4 linked regions of the Homo sapiens genome follow. The protein of the gene in region 4 interacts with the protein of the main gene of each other region in a pairwise test. Each region holds a gene or a part of one and is shown on either strand. Other genes may lie near its edges.

Region 1 (5,578 bases), on a different chromosome or scaffold from region 4:
ATATAGGGAGAAAGCACACACCTTTAGAGGGCGGCTAAATCAAAAGAATCTCCCGTTGTTTTGAGTCATCTTTTCCTTTTTGGCTCACTGCACTCACTTGGGTAACAGCTGCTCTCTTCTTTGTGTTACAACCTGGTGTCCTCAGGAGGCACGAAACCTCTTATGGGGAAGGGAGTCCTTAGGCCATGTGCATGCCGTAATTCTCAAAGTCAAGCCTTTTGGGCACTGCCAGCTCACACTCTAGAAGGGAAGCCATTTTTAATCCTGGGTTGACGCCATGCTGACCTTTGAAGTAAGCCAGGAGCTGGTGGTATGCCCAAGTGGCTGAAGGCCTGGCTCCCAGGTGTGCCCTCCGGGATTTGACCTCTGCCCTGGACTCTGTGGCGATGAAGAGCCTGACAGTGCCCATGTGGCATTCAGGTGTGTACCCTCTCTTCCTCTGCCTGGTGAAACCACATGTGGCTTCTAATATGTCTTCATCAGTATCAGGAGATGCTGGTGTGATGCTGGCTCCCTGCCCTGTGGGACACTAGCCCCACACCCCTGATCATAGACCTGTGGCTAATTTTCTGGTGCAGCAATATTGCTGCTGTTTGTTTTGCGGACCTAAGCTGAATTACCCTGAGAAAGGATCTATGTGAAATGTCTATTTTCATGAAATGAGCACTAAGCATCAGCCAGGAAGGAAACTCCCAGTGATGTCAAGGAGGAAGAAAAAGCTCTCTTTTGAGTGTCTATGCATCTGTTTTTTCCTGCTCTCCTCCACTCTCTCTGCTAAGTATTTGCAGGCAAAGGTATAATAGGAAAAAAGAAGGAAGGGCAGAGGGAAGTGTTTCTCGGAGGCTTTCTAGAATCACAGGATCCAGGCTGACCTTCGCTGTCACCTACCGTGGCCATCAGGGACTGCAGCTGGATCTCCAGGGTCTGCAGGGTGCGCCTCATCTCGGTGAGCTGGCTCCGGGCGAAAGTGGCTGCGCCTGAGTCGTGGGAGATCTGTTGCTGCAGCGAGGCGCTCTGTAGGGCCGGGAAAAAGGGTCACACGGAGTCCCCACCCCCGGGGAGGTGTGAGCAGGGAGACGGGGCCCACCTCACCTTCTCATTGAACCAGGCCTCCGCGTCCTTGCGGTTCTGCTCTGCAAGGGCTTCGTACTCCGCTCGCATGTTGTTCAACAAAACCGCGAGGTCTACCCCCGGGGCCGCGTTCATCTCCACGTTCACGTTGCCCCCAGCCGCGCACTGCAGAGCCTTCATCTCCTGGAGAGAAGCAAGAGTGTGGCTTTAGGGGCATTGCAGGTTCACACTCAGTCTGAGAAGTTCTCAAACGTGTTACTTTATGTCTCAAAGTTTGCGGTCAGGTGTATAATTTATGGCACACAATTTTTTAATTGACATATTCGGTCCATATTCATGCCAATCATCTATTTAATTAGTGAACTGTTGACCGGGCGAGGTGGCTCACTCCTGTAATCCCAGCACTTTGGGAGGCTGAGGCGGGCGGATCACTTGAAGCCAAGAGTTCCAGACCAGCCTGGCCAACATGGCGAAAACCCATCTCTACTAAAAATACAAAAATTAGCCAGGCTTGGTGGTGTGCGCCTGTAGTCCCAGCTACTCCAGAGGCTGAGGCAGGAGAATTGCTTGAACCTGGGAGGTGGAGGTTGCAGTGAGCTGAGATTGCGCCACTGCACTCCAGCCTGGCCACAGAGCGAGACTCTGTCTCAAAACAAAGCAATAGAAAACAAACAAAAAAAATTAGGGACCTGTTAATTAAAATTACCACCACCACCAAAAACAGTCATAGCACCCCAAGAGAAGTAATTTATTCTTTTAAATGAGAAAGGGATTTAAAGACCGGAGAGTTACTCAACATATAGTTACTGACTAAATGTCAGGTTGATGGGAATAGAACAGTAGAAAAAATCCTGAAATCCTGGCCCTCATAGGCATTCATCCTAGGGATGACCGCTGTCATTTATTGAGTGATTATTATAGGCCAGGCACTGTTCTGAGCGTGTGATATGTATTAATTCATTGAAGCCTTTTAACATCCCCTCGTAGTAGGTAGTATTATTAGACTAATCTGTCTGTATCCGTTGGCAAATTATAACAATGAACCTGAATTACTATTGTGATTTTAACCCCCAACCCCTGCCCAGTATTTAAAATGTACAGAGTTGTGATTGGACTACAGGTAAAGCTTCTCCTACCTCTTCGTGGTTCTTTTTGAGATATGTCATCTCCTCACTCAGAGACTCATATTGCAGCTCCTGGTCGGTCCTGCAGAGCGTCAGCTCGTCCAGGACTCGCCGTAATCCGTTGATGTCGGCCTCTACGTTTTGGTGAAGGGTGAGCTCATTTTCATACCTTGGGGGGCATTTAAGTGAATTTCAGTGCCAGTAAGACTACCCCAAGAAACAGAAATATTCAATCCCAATTGCTTTAAACTGAAAATTAGAAATTGAATTAGGACTGTAAATAGTATAAAAATATATGAAGAAAGCGCTCCTGCATTACCCCCACTCAATTCTGTACAGGATAATTGGAAGTTATTTCATCACACAAATTCCAATAGCATAACCTAGTTAAATAAAAATACACCATTTTGGAATTTTATTTTAGTTAACGTTTTTCCTTAGTTGACTAATGATTTACTGAGCATCTACTTTGTGCTTGGCAGTATTCTAGGCAGGCAGAGAAATATATTGATATTTTGTCCCAGGAATATAATAACTATGTATAAGTTGATTGTAACATTATAATACAAATCCTTTGCTTCCTTTTATCTTTTAGGTGATAGTTCATTCTACTTGGGATGAAATAGAAATTTTATTTAACAAATTAAATAAATAGAAACTTTTTTCTAGAGCAGGATTTTCTTCTGTCACTTACTTTAGCCTGAAATCATCAGCAGCCAGTCTGGCATTATCAATCTGCAGAATGACATTAGCATTAGTAGTAGTGGAGGAGATAATCTAGAATAAACCAAAACAGAGAACACAACAAGTAAGTATGCTTTTATGTGATTCATTATTTCAGGAAATGAAAAAGGTTACTCAAGTTTTTGCATAAAAATTTCACCTCCTTATGTAATAATCAAAATGTTTCAAGTTTAACTTTTAAAAATTAAAGACATGGTTTTATTTATTCTCATATATTCCCCTAAATTTAGAACTACAATACTTTTTTATTCATATGCCTATGAATGTACTTCAACATAAACAATGGAACTAATAACATTTTAACTACATTAAAATTCATGAATCAAAGGGCCCATTTTTGAATAGTAGGAAGAATTGTTTATCTAAATAAATAAATACAAGTTATAACAGTCATGAAGCATTTCTTATTGTATGTCTTTTGTTAGGTATTTCTTAGTTTTAAATACTTGGGTTAGTTCCAAATCTGTGATTTCTCACCTTATTCTTAAGATCCTCAATTGTTAGGTGATATCTGCTATAGTCATGATCAAGTCCACGGCAAGATCCAGGTCCGTATTTTTCATACCAACCCTTGATTTTTCTCTCTAATTCAGCATTTGCCTCCTCCAGAGCTCGCACATTATCCAGGTAGGATGCCAAGCGGTCATTAAGATTTTGCATGGTCACCTTCTCATTTCCAGAGAGGAGTCCCCCTTCGCTTCCAGCAAAGCCAATACAAGCAGCATTTCCAAGGGCACCACCAGCATGGCTCCCACCAGGAACACTGCCCAAGCCCCCTCCCAAGGCACAGGAAAATTCACTTCCAGCAACAGAGCCACCACATGCACTGCTGCCTGCAAAGCCTGCACCTCCATTGAGGGGTCTGACAGATCCAGCTCCAGACCTTAAGCAAACATGCCTGGATCCATTAGAAAATTGGAGAGACATGGTGTTTTGAGAAATGTTCACCTTGTCTATGCAAAACTGTAATGTCCCAAGAGAACAGAATATCATGCACTGATAATTTCTTTGGGTTTTTATATATCATTATTGGGGCGTTCCTATTTGAGTTATACATGCCAAAAGCAAAATGGCATCACTTAGATTAGCATAAAATTATGTATAATTGGGTGATTTTAAAAATAATTAATGTCTAACATCCCTCGGTGTTGCTTTGGGCTATTTCTTATCTTAAATATAATAGGGTTTGTTCTATATTAAGTTTATTAATTTAACTTCTAATTTTGAGTGAGTAATCCTTTCCTTTCATCTAGACCCTAGGCATATACTGTCATTATCTGGCGCCAGGTATTATCAAATTTTTTATAAAGTTAAGTAAGATTATGATAGAGTTCTGTGAGGTACAGTAGGGTCTCAATTACCATGGAGGGGTATAAAGGACTGCTAATTACAGAAACAGATATTTTATCCCACCAGAAAAAAATGTGTTATTTAGAAAACAGAGGCTAGTGACATCTCTGTTCTTACCATGATTATAACATCTATTTATTATCTTGGACAATGACACAAATATTGACCTATTATTTTGTTTAAAATAGCATGGTTATGATGTTTGGTGCTCTATGCTAAGTGCTAAAATGAAAGACATAGTGTTAACTAAATGCAGAAGTGAAAAATGCGTGATTACAATCTTTAAGAAATCTATTGTCAGGTCCAGACAGGGGCTGGATCATGGTTAGCTTTCTGTGCTGGTCTAAAGAGTTTGTAATGAATCCTAAGTAAAAAGCAGAGGGCAAAATGATCAGGTTGAAATGAAACAAGGTGGTCAATTACAAGGTTGGAATAATGGTCCAGGTGAGAAGGATGAAGGCAGTGGGGATGCAGAGAAGATGGCTTTGAGAGCATATGGTAATATGATTGAATTTGGAGAGTAGGGAATAAGGCAGAATTGGGGATAACTCTTAGGTAATTAATTTTAGATTCTGGGAACTCATAATATTCACTGAGATGGGGAATAGAGGAGGAGGAAGACACTGAGTTTAGGTTTGGACCAACTGGATTTGAGGGGTTGCCAGAATGTTCCAGATGAAGGTGACTGATAGCAAGAATGACTGTTTAGAATATGTATACTGAACTGGAAAAATACTTGACTAGCAATGAGTAAAAGAAAATTGGAGGGTCCAGCTCTCATTTATAATGATGTTCAACTGCATATTTGGAAGTAATCCTGGTGCAGGAATAGAAAGGATGATGATCAGATTGATGTGGGTTTTGGGATTTGAAGACAGGTCCAGAAGAAGGAAATAGTGGCAAAGAAATTTCTGGTGTTCTTGAGAAAACAATTGAGGCGATTGACTGTATGATCATATAGCAAGAAGAAAGTAAAACCAGAGGGACAGATGGACTGAAGAAAAGGGCAGAGGGTGAGTCATTGGGTATCCTTATGAGGTCATGGAGCAGGCGGAGTGTGAGGAGGAGATTGATAAAGGTGAAGGATGACAGGCTAAAATTGGATAGTGGAAACCAGAATTTAGAATTTTAAAGTAGGCACAACTCCAGGTGTCACCAAAGTCCACAGAGTAGTCATGGGAGTGGACCAACAGTCACTGGAACAAGAAGTCAGAAGTGGATTGGACCTGAAAGGCAAGAGAGTAGGAGGTCAGGAACTATCTGTCTGTGACATTAAATGTACCATCTAT
Region 2 (5,088 bases), about 75 Mb from region 4:
CCTAAGTGCCCGTCAATACAGGAGTAATTAAATTTTGGAGCACCACAAAATGGAATACTTAAATGGTTGAGTTACAAATATGTGTATTTGCTAAGAAAACAGTACCATTAGACATTAAAGTTTTAAAAACATGAAATCACAGACCAATACGTGTAGTACGATTTTGTGTCTATATCAATATGTGTATGAATGCACTGATGCAAATAAGGGAGATAAGAACTCACACCCACTTGTTAAGAATGGTTACCTTAGGCGTAGGTAGAAGATGAAGGAATGAAATGGGACTTGTGCTTTTGTTCAGCATACATTTGTATTTTTGAATCCTTAACAATGCAAATGTATTCATGAATTCTGATGTAATTTTGAACACAATAAAGGCAAAGGAAAAGTGGGTAGAAGATGGCTTATGGGAATAATGAATTGCCTCTTGGTTTTACGTGTTGCTATTCTGTTAATTTGCATGAGAGCAGACTTACAGATATAAAATATTAATCCCCTCAAGCACTATCCACTTGGTCTTTTCTAAAGACCCTCTTGAGCAAAAGAGGAAGCAAAGGGCTCATTGAAGTCAAGCCCCACAGGGACCATAAACTCCTCACTGAAAAGTTCACATGCAATTCTATAGGGACTCAAAAGGTTCGGAATTAATTGTTATCACAGGTGCAGCAACAAGCTTCCCGATTAAAGATGCCAAATTATACTGCATGAGAAAGTTTATTGTTTTGAGAACGTTTACTTCTGAGCCAGAGTTGTTCACTAGTTTATTTTGCCAAAAGTTGTTAGCTGTGGGGAGAGAGGATTGGCTACTACTATATAGTCTTCAAAGACACCTAATTGACTTTTCTTGTGTTGGGAAGGTGCTAGAACAGACTTAAGAAACATTGAGAAGAAGCTGGCCTTCGACATGGCTACCAATGCTGCCTGTGCATCTCTCCTGAAAAAGAAACAGGGAACAGGTATTTGTTTTAAATTCTTCTTTCTCCTCTGGTGCCCCATAACTAAGATTTATTAACTTAGAATGGCGCAAAAGAGATAAACTCAGCTGAGTGCAGTGGCTTATACCTGTAATCCCAGCACTTTGGGAGGCCAAGGCAGGAGGTTCACTTGAGCCCAGGAGTTGGAGACCAGCCTGAGCAATAAAGTGAGACCTCTGTCTCTACAAAAAGTACCAAAAATTAGTCAGACATTGTGGTGTGGGCCTGTAGTCCCAGCTACTCAGGAGGCTGAGCTGGGGGATCACTTGAGCCCTGGGAGGTTGAGGCTGCAGTGAGCTGTGATCGCACCACTGCATTCCAGCCTGGGTGAGAGCAAGACCATATCTCAAAAAAAGAAAACCAAAAAAAAAAAAAAAAAAAAAAAAAAAGATAAACTCTTCAGATGATTCTGAAGTTTGTTTCAATATCCTTGATCTTAATGAGAACCCCCAAAATAGGACACCCTCAATTAAACAGAAATTAGACAAGAAACATAATCTTTTACCTTTATTGTGTGTTTCTTTTATTCCTTGCAATTAAGTTCTAATCACCCTGCTTTCCATTACAGTCCTTTTCAGAGAACGATCATCTTCATTCCCTCATTTAAATATGTATTTATGAGTGATTACCACTAAATATTTTTAAAAATAACATTTAATAGCTCCATGATTATATTTTATTTCTGTTTTAAATGAGGATATCAGTAAACTGTAATCAAATTTATTCTAGACTTTGCTAAATCTTCTGGACTTTATTCATAGTATTATGGGTGGTTTTTTAAAATAGAGTTTAAATGTACATTATTATTATTTTTTTAGATGGAGTCTTACTCTGTTGCTCAGCCTGGAGTGCAGGTGTGCAATCATAGCTCACTGCAGCCTCAAACTCCTAGGCTCACGTGATCCTCCCATCTCAGCTTCCTGAGAAAATGGGACTACAGGCATGTGTCATCATGCCCAGCTAATTTTTTTTTTAATGTAGAGATAGGGGTCTTGCCATGTTGTCCAGGTTGGTCTCGAACTCATGGACTCAAGCCATCCTCCTGCCTCAGCCTCCCAAAGCACTGGGATTACAGGCGAGAGCCGCTGTGCCCAGCCTCCTTTTGTTCTTTATTCTAGATATGTCTTTGTTCCAGATTTCTTTTCTTTTTTTAACTTCAGTTTGAATATAGTGTAACTGCTAATCAGTTGGTATTCCTTAATTAATCCATGAGAGCTCACTGGGAGTGCAAGCCTTTCTTTAAAGTAATTCCTCATGGATAGATGGAGATGGGTTCTACTAAGGGAATGGGAAAGTATCAGCTGAGCTGGTGCTCCCCAGCTACATTATGATTGAGAAGCCATATTTGCAATAGTGTGAGAGACATACTTCTGCTTGAGTTCGACCTCCTACTCCTTGCTGCCTTGATTGGGTCAGGAAGTAGGAGTCTGGCCTAACTTCCTTTCTCTGCCACTGACTTCCTGTTGTGTGGCTACCCTTAGCCTGTCCTGACCGAAGAGTAAGGCTTCTTATGACCTGAAGGTATCAGAGTCTAATGCATGCTATGAGCTCCATTTTGATAGACAAGGCATATACCAAACTTTCTTAGACCTCAGAGAGCTTACCCAGAAGCCTTACTCAGGAGTGGTTTGAGTTGAGGGAGGCAGGTAATGAGCCTTTCTGCAGCCTTCGTAGAACAGGGCTGGGAGGCAGGTACTCTTTTCTCTGTGCACCCCAAGTGTGTTTAGTCTACCTTCCTGAATTTGAACTGATTAGGTAATAGATTCATTAATGAGGTAATCTTAGGGCCTGGCAGACAGAGCCAAGAAATGAGTTTTTATATTTCAATTTTCATGTTACTTTTAAAATGTTTTTTCTTGCTTCATTTCCCCAATTATACAGTTAATTTGTATTGTGATCCTCATTGGAATAGGTTTGGACTATTTGGCCATAGAGTTAATTGTCAGCATGAACTCTAAGTTGGAAAAGGTATATTCTGATATTGTTGTCCACTTTTTTTTTTTTTTTGAGACAGAGTCTCACTCTGTTGCCCAGGCTGGAGTGAAGTGACACAATCTCAGTTCACTGCAACCTCCGCCTCCCGGGCTCAAGTGATTCTCCTGCCTCAGCCTCCTGAGTAGCTGGGATTACAGGCATGAGCCACGATGCCCGGCTAATTTTTGTATTTTTATCAGAGATGGGGTTTCACCTTTTTTGTCCAGGCTGGTCTCGAACTCCTGACCTCAAGCGATCTGCCTGCCTTGGCCTCCCAAGGTAGTTGTTGTCTACTTTTAGAAGCACAATGTGGATTTTTTAATAAGTACAAAAATTCACATTTTGCAGTTACTATGGAAGATAACTAGGATATAGGGCTGGGGGTTATACTCGAGTTGAGCCCTTTAACATTTTTTTCCAACTTTTAAAAATTTGTGTATAATTTACATTAAGTAAGTACATAAATCTTAAGCATACAGCTTGATTAATTTTTTTTACACCTGTTCACCACAACCCAGATGAAGCTAGAGAACAGTTCCCACACGCCACATGCCTCCCTCAGTGTCTTCTGCTTCTCTCACCATAGATTAGTTCTGCCCGTTCGTGAACTTTATGTAAATGGAATCAAACAGTATGTACTTTTTGTGACTGACCTCTTTCATTTACATTATGTCTGTGAGAGTCATCCATATGCCTGTGTTTATTTCTCCATCATTTATTTATTGTTTGTATGTTTGTTGGTTGGTTTTAAGTGCTGGTTCTTGATTTGAGATATGTAAAGCCAGGGTGATGGGACTGAGGTAAAATGAACGTGAGCTAGGGAAGGATGGCAGTGCTGCAGGAAGATACATTCCTATGCGTGCTATGCCCAGAGGTGGGCTGTGAAGAGATACAGGCTCATCACACAACACCTGACCATGTGGGAAAACTGCCTCAGAACAGTTCATGAAAGGAAAGAAGGAGAAGGAATTTATTTGCTGACTTGTGCCTGTCTTTTGATGACCACTCAGTCAGAGTCTGCACTGTGGCAAATCATCCTCTCTTTTTAATAGAAGTAAGAATAAAATAAAGAGCAGAAGTAACCATCCAAGGACACAGAATATGGGCAAAACTTAGGATAGTGGAGTAGAAGGGGACAGAGTTTTCCTATTTGTCTCTCAGGCTTTAGCTTAGAAAGCTACATTTTACCAAGTTGACATGAAGTCCTGAAGGTCCTGGGTGTGTGTTGGGGGAGAACAAAATATATTCCTCCCACTTCTTGTGAACTCCTCTTGAGGAGAGTGGAGAAGAATAGAGTCAACCTGGAGACTTCCAGTAGCTTGAAGGCTGGTGTGAAGTCAGTGAAACATGGCCAGGTGTGGCGGCTCACACCTGTAATCCCAGCACTTTGGGAGGCAGGGAGGATTGCTTGCATCTGGGAGTTCAAGACTAGCCTGGACAACATAGTGAGATGACGTCTTTACAAAAAAAATTAAAAACTAGCTGAGTGTGGTGCTGCATGCCTGTAGTCTTAGCTACTTGGGAGGCTGAGGTGGGAGGATCACTTGAGTCCAGAAAGTCAAGGCTGCAGTGAGCCATGATTGTACCACTGCACTGCAGCCTGGGTGACAGAATGAGATCCAGAAAAGAGACTTGGCCTCTGTTCTGCTTTATCTTTCCTTCTCTCTCTTGCAAGATAAATCGGCTTCCACCTCCCTTGTACTGATCATCCCTTCTTCTTTTCTTTTTCTCAATAATCATTTTCCAAAACATGTAAACATGAAAACTTTTTTTTTTAAAAGAGCATTAGCATACCTAAAAAATAATTCCTTAATATTCCTTAATATCATCAAATATCTTGTCCTTGTCCAAACTTCCATTTTCTCATACATCTTTGTTTTTACTTATTTATTTACTTATGGTTTATTTAAGTCAGGATTCACATAAGGTCAGTTTGTGATTGGTAGATATGTCTCTTTATTTATTTTTTAAGCAATAGTTCCTTTCCCTCTCTTCTTCCCCCTTTTTAACCTTGCAATTTATTTATTAAAGAAACTGGGTCAACTCACTTGAATTTCCCATTGTGGACATTGCTAACTGCATTCCCATGGTGTTATTTGTCATGTTCCTCTGTCCTTTATGTTTTTGTCAATTAGTGTTA
Region 3 (5,095 bases), on a different chromosome or scaffold from region 4:
AAGATGTTAAAACCAAAAATCTTCTCTTGAATCTACTCACCATCTTATATTAAGAGTAAACAACTGTGCAAGTCTTTCAAATTTCCCAAATGAAATAGCATAAATGCTGTTATAGAGAACAAATATAGCATCTTTTCAAAGGATTAAAAAATGGGTATGTACTGGGATAGTGTCAACACTTTAAATTTAAGAATTCTTCAGCTAATATGTCAGCTGGTTAACAATGGTTACGAGGGGCTGAAGACTCCAGTGCCTAACATAAATGATGCTTTAACATTACTGGTAAAAATAGCTTATTTCTGTATTTCTGACCTTTTAATTAAGATTTGTCAACGTGACTGGGCACGGTGGATCACGCCTGTGATCCTGGCACTTTGGGAGGCCAAGGCGGGTGGGTCCTTTGAGCCCAGGAGTTCAAGACCAGCCTGGGTAACATGGCAAAACCCCATCTCTACAAAAAACTCAAAAATTAGCTAGGTGTGGTGGTGTGCACCTGTAGTCCCAACTACTTGGGAGGCTGAGGTAGGAGAATCACTTCAGCCCAGCAGGCAGGGGTTGCAGTGAGCCAAGATCACGGCACTGCACTCTAGCTTAGGTGACAGAGCAAGACCCTGTCTCAAAAAACAAACAAAAAAAAATTGTTCAACAATGTCATTTCTTTACATGTTAGAAATGGTCAGGAAGAATCTTAGAGATGATTTATGATTTAGTCCAATGTACAATTCCAGACAGTATACTGAGATCACCCTGTAAGTCTTAATAACATTACTAGATCAATCTAGAAGCCAGTTGCTATCCTCTGGCATCTTCTATGTACTAGGAAAAACACTAGAACTCCCACTGAAGATAATGTAACAGTAAGATAGTATAAGCAGTATTGTAGTCTCCTTTTTCTTTATTTTACTTAGGAAATATAGAGTAAGCACTCTACTCACAGTGAAAAGACATAAAGGAATCTCAAAACTTCAGAGAAATGAAAACCAGTTCCTTCTCACAAAACAGTTTGGGAAACCCTAATATGATCCAACTCTTTCATTTATGGACAAAGATAATGCCCAAGATGAAATTATTTGTCCAGTTAATTAGGCAGGAACAAGACTAGAGTCAGTGTTTCTTCTGATAAACTATATTTTCATTACTGAATGTAGAACTTGTACACAGGCTACTTTACAAGAGTTGAATCTCCAAAAGCAATGGGAAAAAATGTCTTTAGTATTACTCTTATCTACAGTATAAGAGTAATAATACTGAACTGAAAAATTAGAGATTACTAAAGATTATACTTAAAAGTTGTGTATCTACAGAAATAATTCACAAGATTATATGAGTTCTGGATTATTTTCACATTCTATAATTCTGCGTGGTTACAAAAACTTACTGGATAAGAAGCTGCTGCTTGGAAAAGTTTGAGTAGAAAAAAAAGAGTCCATGTCAATTTTGGCATTTAGTCTGCTCATAAGACTAATCGTTGCTAATATTCATTTCAAAAATATTTCTTCGTGTAATGTGTACCCGCCACGATGGTCGTGTGCAATCAGTACAACAGAAAATTTAGCTCAATAAATTATAGGTTACTGAGCTCTAGTCACTTAAAAACTTTTAATAGTTAATTTCAGTATTACATGTTTTTTTTTAGGACATTACCTTTATTTATGACTTAGGTGAAACATGAAACACAGGAGACCAGACTGTTCCAAACCTAAGAACAAGGCTTATTTAAAACAAAACAAAACAAACAAACAAAAAAAAAGAAAAACAAACAAATATACGGAAATCACCAACTATAAATCATATGCTAAAACCAAATAAAATGCCAGTATATCCATACATTAAAAATAACCAAATTCCTTGAAACTTACCTTTCCTTAACCCTTTAATAATAATCTACCCTAACTTTTCCTCCCTGCTCTGAATCTCTATAACACACTTTCTATAATTCATACTGCACTTCTTTATATTATCTATATTGTTTTTATGCAGACAAGCATTAATTATATCTCAAACTAGACAGTAGGTTCCTTTGAGGAGAAGAGACTTTACAGTATCTAGCACTATATAGGTTGGCATGTACTTTTGGCAGACATCACCCTATGATTCAACTGGAGTGAGAAGGATGATGTGTACTGATGCCAGGGAGAGTAAGACATAAATTACACATATAGAGTCAGCATCTAAGAGGTTGCTGTCTGGACAAAGGGGCTAGTATAATTTTGATTTTCTAATACTAAAAACAAAACTAAGGTATAATTCTCAACAGTACAATACTTAAATGAAAAAAAGGATGCACAATTCATTATGATCAAGATGAAATATTAAGTATAAATACTACTCTATTTAACATCAGAATTTGTAGGTAATAATCCAGAAACGACATGCTGAAGATATGGTCATTCACTAAAAAGCAGTGTTGACATTGTGTGCATGCTCCTCGTGACGATAATCCTCGAAAACCCGTGTTACCACTTCTACCTTCCTTCGCAGCATGCCTATAGGAGAAAAAGTCACACAATCATTAATCTAAGGCCAAAATATCCCATGAACATAATTTACGTATTCCTTTCAACACATGATTAACAAAATTTTACATAGCAATTTCAATAGCTTTACGTTTTAGAAAACACATAAGAAAAAAACACTCATCTATCTGTTTGGAAACTGTGCAAACAATGGACAAGACTTTTTTTTTTTTCTGCTCTCCCTAGCTTTCAGGCAAATAACTGTCTAGTTGACATTTATGTTTTGTTAGGATGAGGTGTTAACTGCTTTTTGACTCATTATACCCTAAAAGTGACATACAGGGTAGTCATTAAATTGGGAGTATAGGTTTTGGTGGGTCTTAGCTACCTATAAGCAAATGAGCGCACTGAGTATATTTACATTTCTGTTCTTTTCCAATAATGATTTATTTAACTTGGTGGTTCTTAAATTTTCTCAGGGGCAGAGTACCACAGAATACCATTAATTTTATCATATGAAACAGTAACTTTCTGCTAGTAAAACTAAGCTGTTGAAGTAAGCATGATACTCTGAGTTTTTCTATTAACATGCACAAATAAACTTTGTCATTTCTTTTAGTGTTCATTAATGGTTACTCATGAATAAGCCATAACTGGTGCCCAAGAAGAAAAACAATTTACAAGAGAAACACTAAAAAATTTAAACGATATACAGTTGACTCTTGGAAAACATAGGTTTAAACTGCGCAAGTTCACTATACGTGAATTTTCTTCCACTTCTGCCACACTTGAGACAAGACCACCCTCTCCTCTTCCTCCTCACCCTGTTCAACATGAAGATGAAGAGAATGAAGAACTTTATGATGATCCAATTCCACTTAATAACTGGTAAATGTTTCTTTTCTTCCTTATGATTTTCTTAACAACATTTTCTTTTTCTCTAGCTTACTTTATCATAAGAATACAGTATATAATAATACATATAACATGCAAAATACGTGTTAATTGACTATGTTAGTGGTAAGGCTTCCATCAACAGTAGGCTATTAGTAGTTAAGTTTTGGGGAGTCGAAAGTTATATTTGGTTTTTTACTGTGTAGGGATTAGCACCCCTAAACCCTTCATTGTTGAAGGGCCAGCTGTAATATACTTTAATTTTCTTCACCCAATCAGAAAAACCCTAATGTTACCCAGTTTTTAAAGTGTAATACCTCATTTTATCTTATAAAGACATTCTGCAAGATCATGCTTTAAGGACAGTGATTTCAATGCTGGCTGTCTATAAAAGGCCAGAAAAACATTATGTTCAACCTGGCAAACTATATCTCCTTTTTGTTGTAATAACTAACTGCGGGGTGCAATTTTTTCACCTAAATAACAGTTTTTAATATGATGGAAGCACAGATGAGCACTACAACAAACCATTAACTTGAGATCAGAAGTGTCAACATAGGCACATTCTAGTAATTTGCTGATTGATACATATTAAATGCAAAGGGGTACATTTATAATGATTTTAAAAATCAATAAACTGTCAAGAAATACAAGTCAGCATTCTTAAGAAAGCCTTACTATTAGCATTTTGTCATGTCTTCTAATTGAATTCCCAGGACTATTTCTGTATTAACATACTTTAAATTTTTTAGGACTTTCATTCTTTAAGGGCAAAAACTGCACCTAGGTACTTAATGCCCAGAATTTTGGTCCCATGACAAGCATCAGTGATTGACTGGTTCCTGCCAGCATATTAAATATGGCATACACATATTGACATTATTAAAAAATAATTGTTCTAAACAATATGAAAATAAGAAAACAATTTCATTCACAATAGCATCAAAAAGAATTATAATACTTAGGAATAAACTTAACAAATGAAGTATAAGACCTGTACACTGACAACAAAAAAACATTGCTAAGAAAAACTAAAGAATATCTAAATAAGTGGAGATATATTCCATGTTCATGGATTAAAAGACTCACTATTGTTAAGATGGCAATTCTCCACAAGTTGATCTACAGATTCAATGTAATCCCTATGAAAATTCTAGCAGGCTCTTTTTATAGAAATAGACAAGCTTAATTTAAATGTATATGGAGAGGCAAAGGATCCAGAAAAAAACAATCTTGAAAAATAAGAACAAACTGTAGGATTTAACACTATCTAATTTTAAAACTTAATCAAGTAATCAAGACAGCATGATATGGGCAATAATAGCCATAGAGATCAATGAAACAGAAACAAAGTCCAGAAATAAAACCTTATAAGGTACCAAGGCAATTCAATGGTAGAAATCATAATCTTTTTCAACAAATGGCTCTGGGACAACTGGATATCTACATCCAAATGAAATCAAACCCCCACCTTTAACTATATACAAAAATCAACTCAAGATGGATTATCAATCTAAATGTAAGTGCTAAAACTATATTTTAAAAAACAACAAGAGGCTGGGTGCTGTGCCTCATGCCTGTAATCCCAGCACTTTGGGGGGCCGAGGCAAGAGGATCACCTGAGGTCAGGAGTTCGAGACCAGCCTGGCCAACCTTGTGAAACCCTGTATCTACTAAAAATACAAAAATTAGCCAGGTGTGGTGGCAGGAGCCTGTAATCCCAGCTACTCAAGAGGCTGAGGCAG
Region 4 (4,310 bases):
GCGCCAGGCAGGACGACAGCAGCAGCAGCGCATCTCCTTCAGGTGGGAGCAGCTCTTTGAGGCCACCTGATTTCTGGCGTGCTCAGTGCACTCGGGTGGATTTTCTGTGGGTTTGTTAAGTGGTCAGAAATTCTCAATTTTTTGAATAGTTTCCATTTCAAATATCTTGTTCTACTTGGTTCATAAAATAGTGGCTTTCAAACTGTAGAGCTCTGGACTTCTCACTTCTAGGGCAGAGGGAGCCTGAACAAGTGAGGCTCTGGGTTCCTCATTCCTAATTAAACCAATGGAAAGAAGGGGTCTAATAACAAACTACAGCAACACATTTTTCATTTCAGCTTCACTGCTGTATCTCCCAGTGTAACCCTAGCATCCAGAAGTGGCACAAAACCCCTCTGCTGGCTCATGTGTGCAACTGAGACTGTCAGAGCATGGCTAGCTCAGGGGTCCAGCTCTGCAGGGTGAGGGCTAGAGAGGAAGCAGGGAGTATCTGCACACAGGATGCCCGCGCTCAGGTGGTTGCCGAAGTCAGTGCCCGGGCCCCACACAGTCTCCAAAGGTCCGGCCTCCCCAGCGCGGGGCTCCTCGTTTGAGGGGAGGTGACTTCCCTCCCAGCAGGCTCTTGGACACAGTAAGCTTCCCCAGCCCTGCCTGAGCAGCCTTTCCTCCTTGCCCTGTTCCCCACCTCCCGGCTCCAGTCCAGGGAGCTCCCAGGGAAGTGGTCGACCCCTCCGGTGGCTGGGCCACTCTGCTAGAGTCCATCCGCCAAGCTGGGGGCATCGGCAAGGCCAAGCTGCGCAGCATGAAGGAGCGAAAGCTGGAGAAGCAGCAGCAGAAGGAGCAGGAGCAAGGTGAGCGGGCCCTGGAGCCTGCGGTTGGAGGGCCTTGGGCAAGATCGCCTCCTCCCCTCCAGCCCTGAGTCCACCGGGTGCTTTCTGCCCACCCCCTGCTCCTGCCAGCTGGCCCCTGCTTCCCCTAGGGCACATGCTGGAAGCCCTGGGCCGCCACCAGAGGTCCTCAGCCCTCCTGCCTGGGCTATGGCTCCTTCCTGGTTTGGGAGCCATAGTGGAGCTTTCCTCTCTAAGCTCACCCAGCTCAAACTGTGACAGGAGAATCTTCTTCGACTGCCAAGAGCGGTCCAAGGCAATGGTCAGCCACTGCAGCCTCCTGAGATATTTTTAGAGACTGGACCTGAGGCCTCTGGAGGCTACTGATGATGCCTGCTGTGAACGCAGACACTGGTGTGATGCGATGCCTGCGCCTGCAGCGGCAGTGCCCTGGGCACTATGGTTTTGAGCTTGTACCCAGCGCTGCTTTTGCCTTGCTCTGTGACCCCAGGCAAGCTGCCTCACCTCTCTGGGCCAGTTTCCCCATCGTACAGTGGTGCTGCACACCCTGGCCCTGTCCCCGAGGTGGCTGGGAGGTGGCTCCTCAAACAGCCACTTTCTCATCAGTGCCCGGTGCTGGGTCAGGCATCGACTGAGGCTCTGAGCTAACTAGGAAACACAGTGGCCTTGGAGGGCTGGGGAGTGTCATGGGGGTGGGGACAGGGAGCCACCGGTCGCATGTGACTGAACTCTTCACCCCAGTCTGTGGCTTTCCCGTTGCAGTGAGAGCCACGAGCCAAGGTGGGCACTTGATGTCGGATCTCTTCAACAAGCTGGTCATGAGGCGCAAGGGTAGGAGGCAGGGCCGCTGCCCACCCTGGGCCGGCACATTGTAATTCTGTCCTGCCTTTTTCTTCCTGTATTTAAGTCTCCGGGGGCTGGGGGAACCAGGGTTTCCCACCAACCACCCTCACTCAGCCTTTTCCCTCCAGGCATCTCTGGGAAAGGACCTGGGGCTGGTGAGGGGCCCGGAGGAGCCTTTGTCCGCGTGTCAGACTCCATCCCTCCTTTGCCGCCACCGCAGCAGCCACAGGCAGAGGAGGACGAGGACGACTGGGAATCGTAGGGGGCTCCATGACACCTTCCCCCCCAGACCCAGACTTGGGCCGTTGCTCTGACATGGACACAGCCAGGACAAGCTGCTCAGACCTGCTTCCCTGGGAGGGGGTGACGGAACCAGCAGTGTGTGGAGACCAGCTTCAAGGAGCGGAAGGCTGGCTTGAGGCCACACAGCTGGGGCGGGGACTTGTCTGCCTGTACTTCATGGGGGGACGGCTCCACCCAGCCTGCGCCACTGTGTTCTTAAGAGGCTTCCAGAGAAAACGGCACACCAATCAATAAAGAACTGAGCAGAAACCAACAGTGTGCTTTTAATAAAGGATCTCTAGCTGTGCAGGATGCAAACGTCTCGGGGTCAGTGACTGCCTCCTGCCCCTGTTGGTCCCTAGGCAGTGGGGGCAGAAGCTCCCAGCTGACTTGTTTCTCTGGGATGAGAGGGAGGAGAGAAGGGCAGTCAGCAGGGGCAGCTGTTGCAGATGGGAGGAATAGTTTCCCACAAAAAAGGTTTCAGTGACAGACACAGGGTCTCTAAAAATAGTCATGCTGAGAGCCTAATGGCCCTTGGCACAATTGCTGGTGTTGGGGTAGAAGATGTCTTGGAGTTTGCTCAAGTGGTTGAGAGGGAGGGAGGTGCCATCGACTTGGAGGAACTGGCACCAAGCCAGGGAGATAGAAATCCAGGCAAGGCTGTGGGGCAGGTTAGGGAGCAAGGCTGCAGGAGTGACTCAGGAAGAAGGTGGGGGAGGTGACAAGCCCCCAGGCAGGGGCCCTGTGGCCATGGGGATCTTTTTAAATTGAGACTAGGGGGTGAATAGTCCAGGGCAGCTAACTTTAGTTATTATAGAAAGGGCAGTAGCAGATGGGTCTGCTCCGTCTCCCTTCTAAGAAGGTGGGCAGGACAAATGGCAGCCTCCTGCAGAGGCCCAGTGAGAAGCCTGGCCCTCGGCCACACAGGATGGAAGACAGATTGGATTCCACAGAGGGGAGCTGCCCTGGGAAGATCTCACGGATGGCCAGGACCCACCATTTCTTCGGGGTTCCCCTGTTTTCTCCAACGGGCACTAATGCCTGTGCCTGGGTCCTGGCAACACTCTGGACTCCACACTCTTCTGGGTTTCACCTTTGTAGCAGGATCCCTGCAGATCAGGCCCATGACAAACACCGTCTCCAGCGGGCAGAGCAAAGGAAGGGCGCAGCGCCAGGCAGTGGTGCAGCTGCCTGTCAGGAAGAGGCCTACTTCTGGTGAAACTGGGCAGACAAAAGGCAGTGAGAAATGTGATCTCGGGGTGGTGGAGGCTCTAGGGAAAGGAAAAGGCAGGAGTGAACTTCCACACAGCAGCAATGGCAGAACCAAAGGTGGCTTTGACCTCCACGAGGGCTCAGATCCAGGCCAACAGCTTGTCCAGGACAGGGTGCCGGGTGTATCACTAATCCAGGAGCACTATGCTGGCAGAATCCCTTTGGTGCCTGATGGCCCTGCCTTCGTGGGAACAGAGGCTAAGGCTTTGAGTTACAGCTGCCTCCCCAACAGTGCATCCCCTTCTCCTTCCTCAGCCTCAGGTAGGAGACAGGGCAGGCAACCCCCCTTTCCTCTTCTCCCCTTCTCCAGCCCCTGTCTGTCCACCCAGCTGGAGGCAGCCAGGCTTGCCTATGGACTGGTTGACAGCCTTCATGCACAGGTTCTCCACCAGAGCCTTTCTTGGGGGCCCCTGGCCTGGGCTCTGAGCTGGGAGTGAAGGGGATGACCCATGCGGACTGTTTGCTGCTTGTAGCTTTCCCTGGGAAAGACTCTGCCAGGCCTTGGAGCCAGACCAGGAGGCTTTATAGGCCACTGCAAGCAGCAGGGCTCCAGATGACATCACAGGGAATATCAAGAGGGAGTGGAGGGGCATCGAAGCCTCTCCAGGAGACAGGAGACGCCGGCCCAGTAGAGCCCTAGGGGCGACGCCACTCCCACTCACTGTCTACTCTCCTCTCACCTCTGCAACACTGGGGACACTCACAAGATTGTGATCCAAGTCGGCCGTCGTCTTCTGCAGCTCTGGAGACCTGATGCTGGGGAAGGGCATGCCTGGCATCACCACACACCTGGGGGGAGACAGGAGCCTGGGGCCGGTGGGCCCACACATCACCAGCTGCTCCGTTCTACCATTTCTTCAGCCCTCTTGGCTGTGCCTGCGGCTCTGCCCCTCCCCTCTCTGCACCTACCACCCAGAGAGGGCTTGTTGAGCTCAGAGATCCCACCTAGGCCAATCCACTGGGTTCTGTGGCAGCGATGGCCTGCCTGATCTTCCACCTGCTCTCCCAGGGCCAAAGCCAGACCTGCTGAGCCCCTCCCTCCAGCCGGCTGGTCTGAGCAGTCAC

Evidence for each region.
Region 1: the proteins of WASHC1 (region 4) and KRT28 interact in a two-hybrid assay, tested with the Homo sapiens proteins (one large-scale study listed by BioGRID).
Region 2: the proteins of WASHC1 (region 4) and OSTF1 interact in a two-hybrid assay, tested with the Homo sapiens proteins (one large-scale study listed by BioGRID).
Region 3: the proteins of WASHC1 (region 4) and NUP62CL interact in a two-hybrid assay, tested with the Homo sapiens proteins (one large-scale study listed by BioGRID).

What each region holds. Positions count from the first base shown.
Region 1 is NC_000017.11:40,796,028-40,801,605, forward strand, and holds the start of KRT28 (keratin, type I cytoskeletal 28), read right to left. Parts: upstream 3,933-5,578; 5' UTR 3,867-3,932; coding exon 3,417-3,866; intron 2,973-3,416; coding exon 2,890-2,972; intron 2,365-2,889; coding exon 2,208-2,364; intron 1,255-2,207; coding exon 1,093-1,254; intron 1,015-1,092; coding exon 889-1,014; intron 1-888. UniProt on the Homo sapiens protein: Essential for the proper assembly of types I and II keratin protein complexes and the formation of keratin intermediate filaments in the inner root sheath (irs).
Region 2 is NC_000009.12:75,139,977-75,145,064, forward strand, and holds part of OSTF1 (osteoclast-stimulating factor 1), read left to right. Parts: intron 1-857; coding exon 858-956; intron 957-5,088.
Region 3 is NC_000023.11:107,121,847-107,126,941, forward strand, and holds the end of NUP62CL (nucleoporin-62 C-terminal-like protein), read right to left. Parts: intron 2,487-5,095; coding exon of another isoform or gene 2,300-2,486; 3' UTR 1,581-2,299; downstream 1-1,580.
Region 4 is NC_000009.12:12,450-16,759, reverse strand, and holds the end of WASHC1 (WASH complex subunit 1), read left to right. Parts: coding exon 1-42; intron 43-698; coding exon 699-851; intron 852-1,610; coding exon 1,611-1,679; intron 1,680-1,819; coding exon 1,820-1,953; 3' UTR 1,954-2,247; downstream 2,248-4,310. UniProt on the Homo sapiens protein: Acts as a component of the WASH core complex that functions as a nucleation-promoting factor (NPF) at the surface of endosomes, where it recruits and activates the Arp2/3 complex to induce actin polymerization, playing a key role in the fission of tubules that serve as transport intermediates during endosome sorting.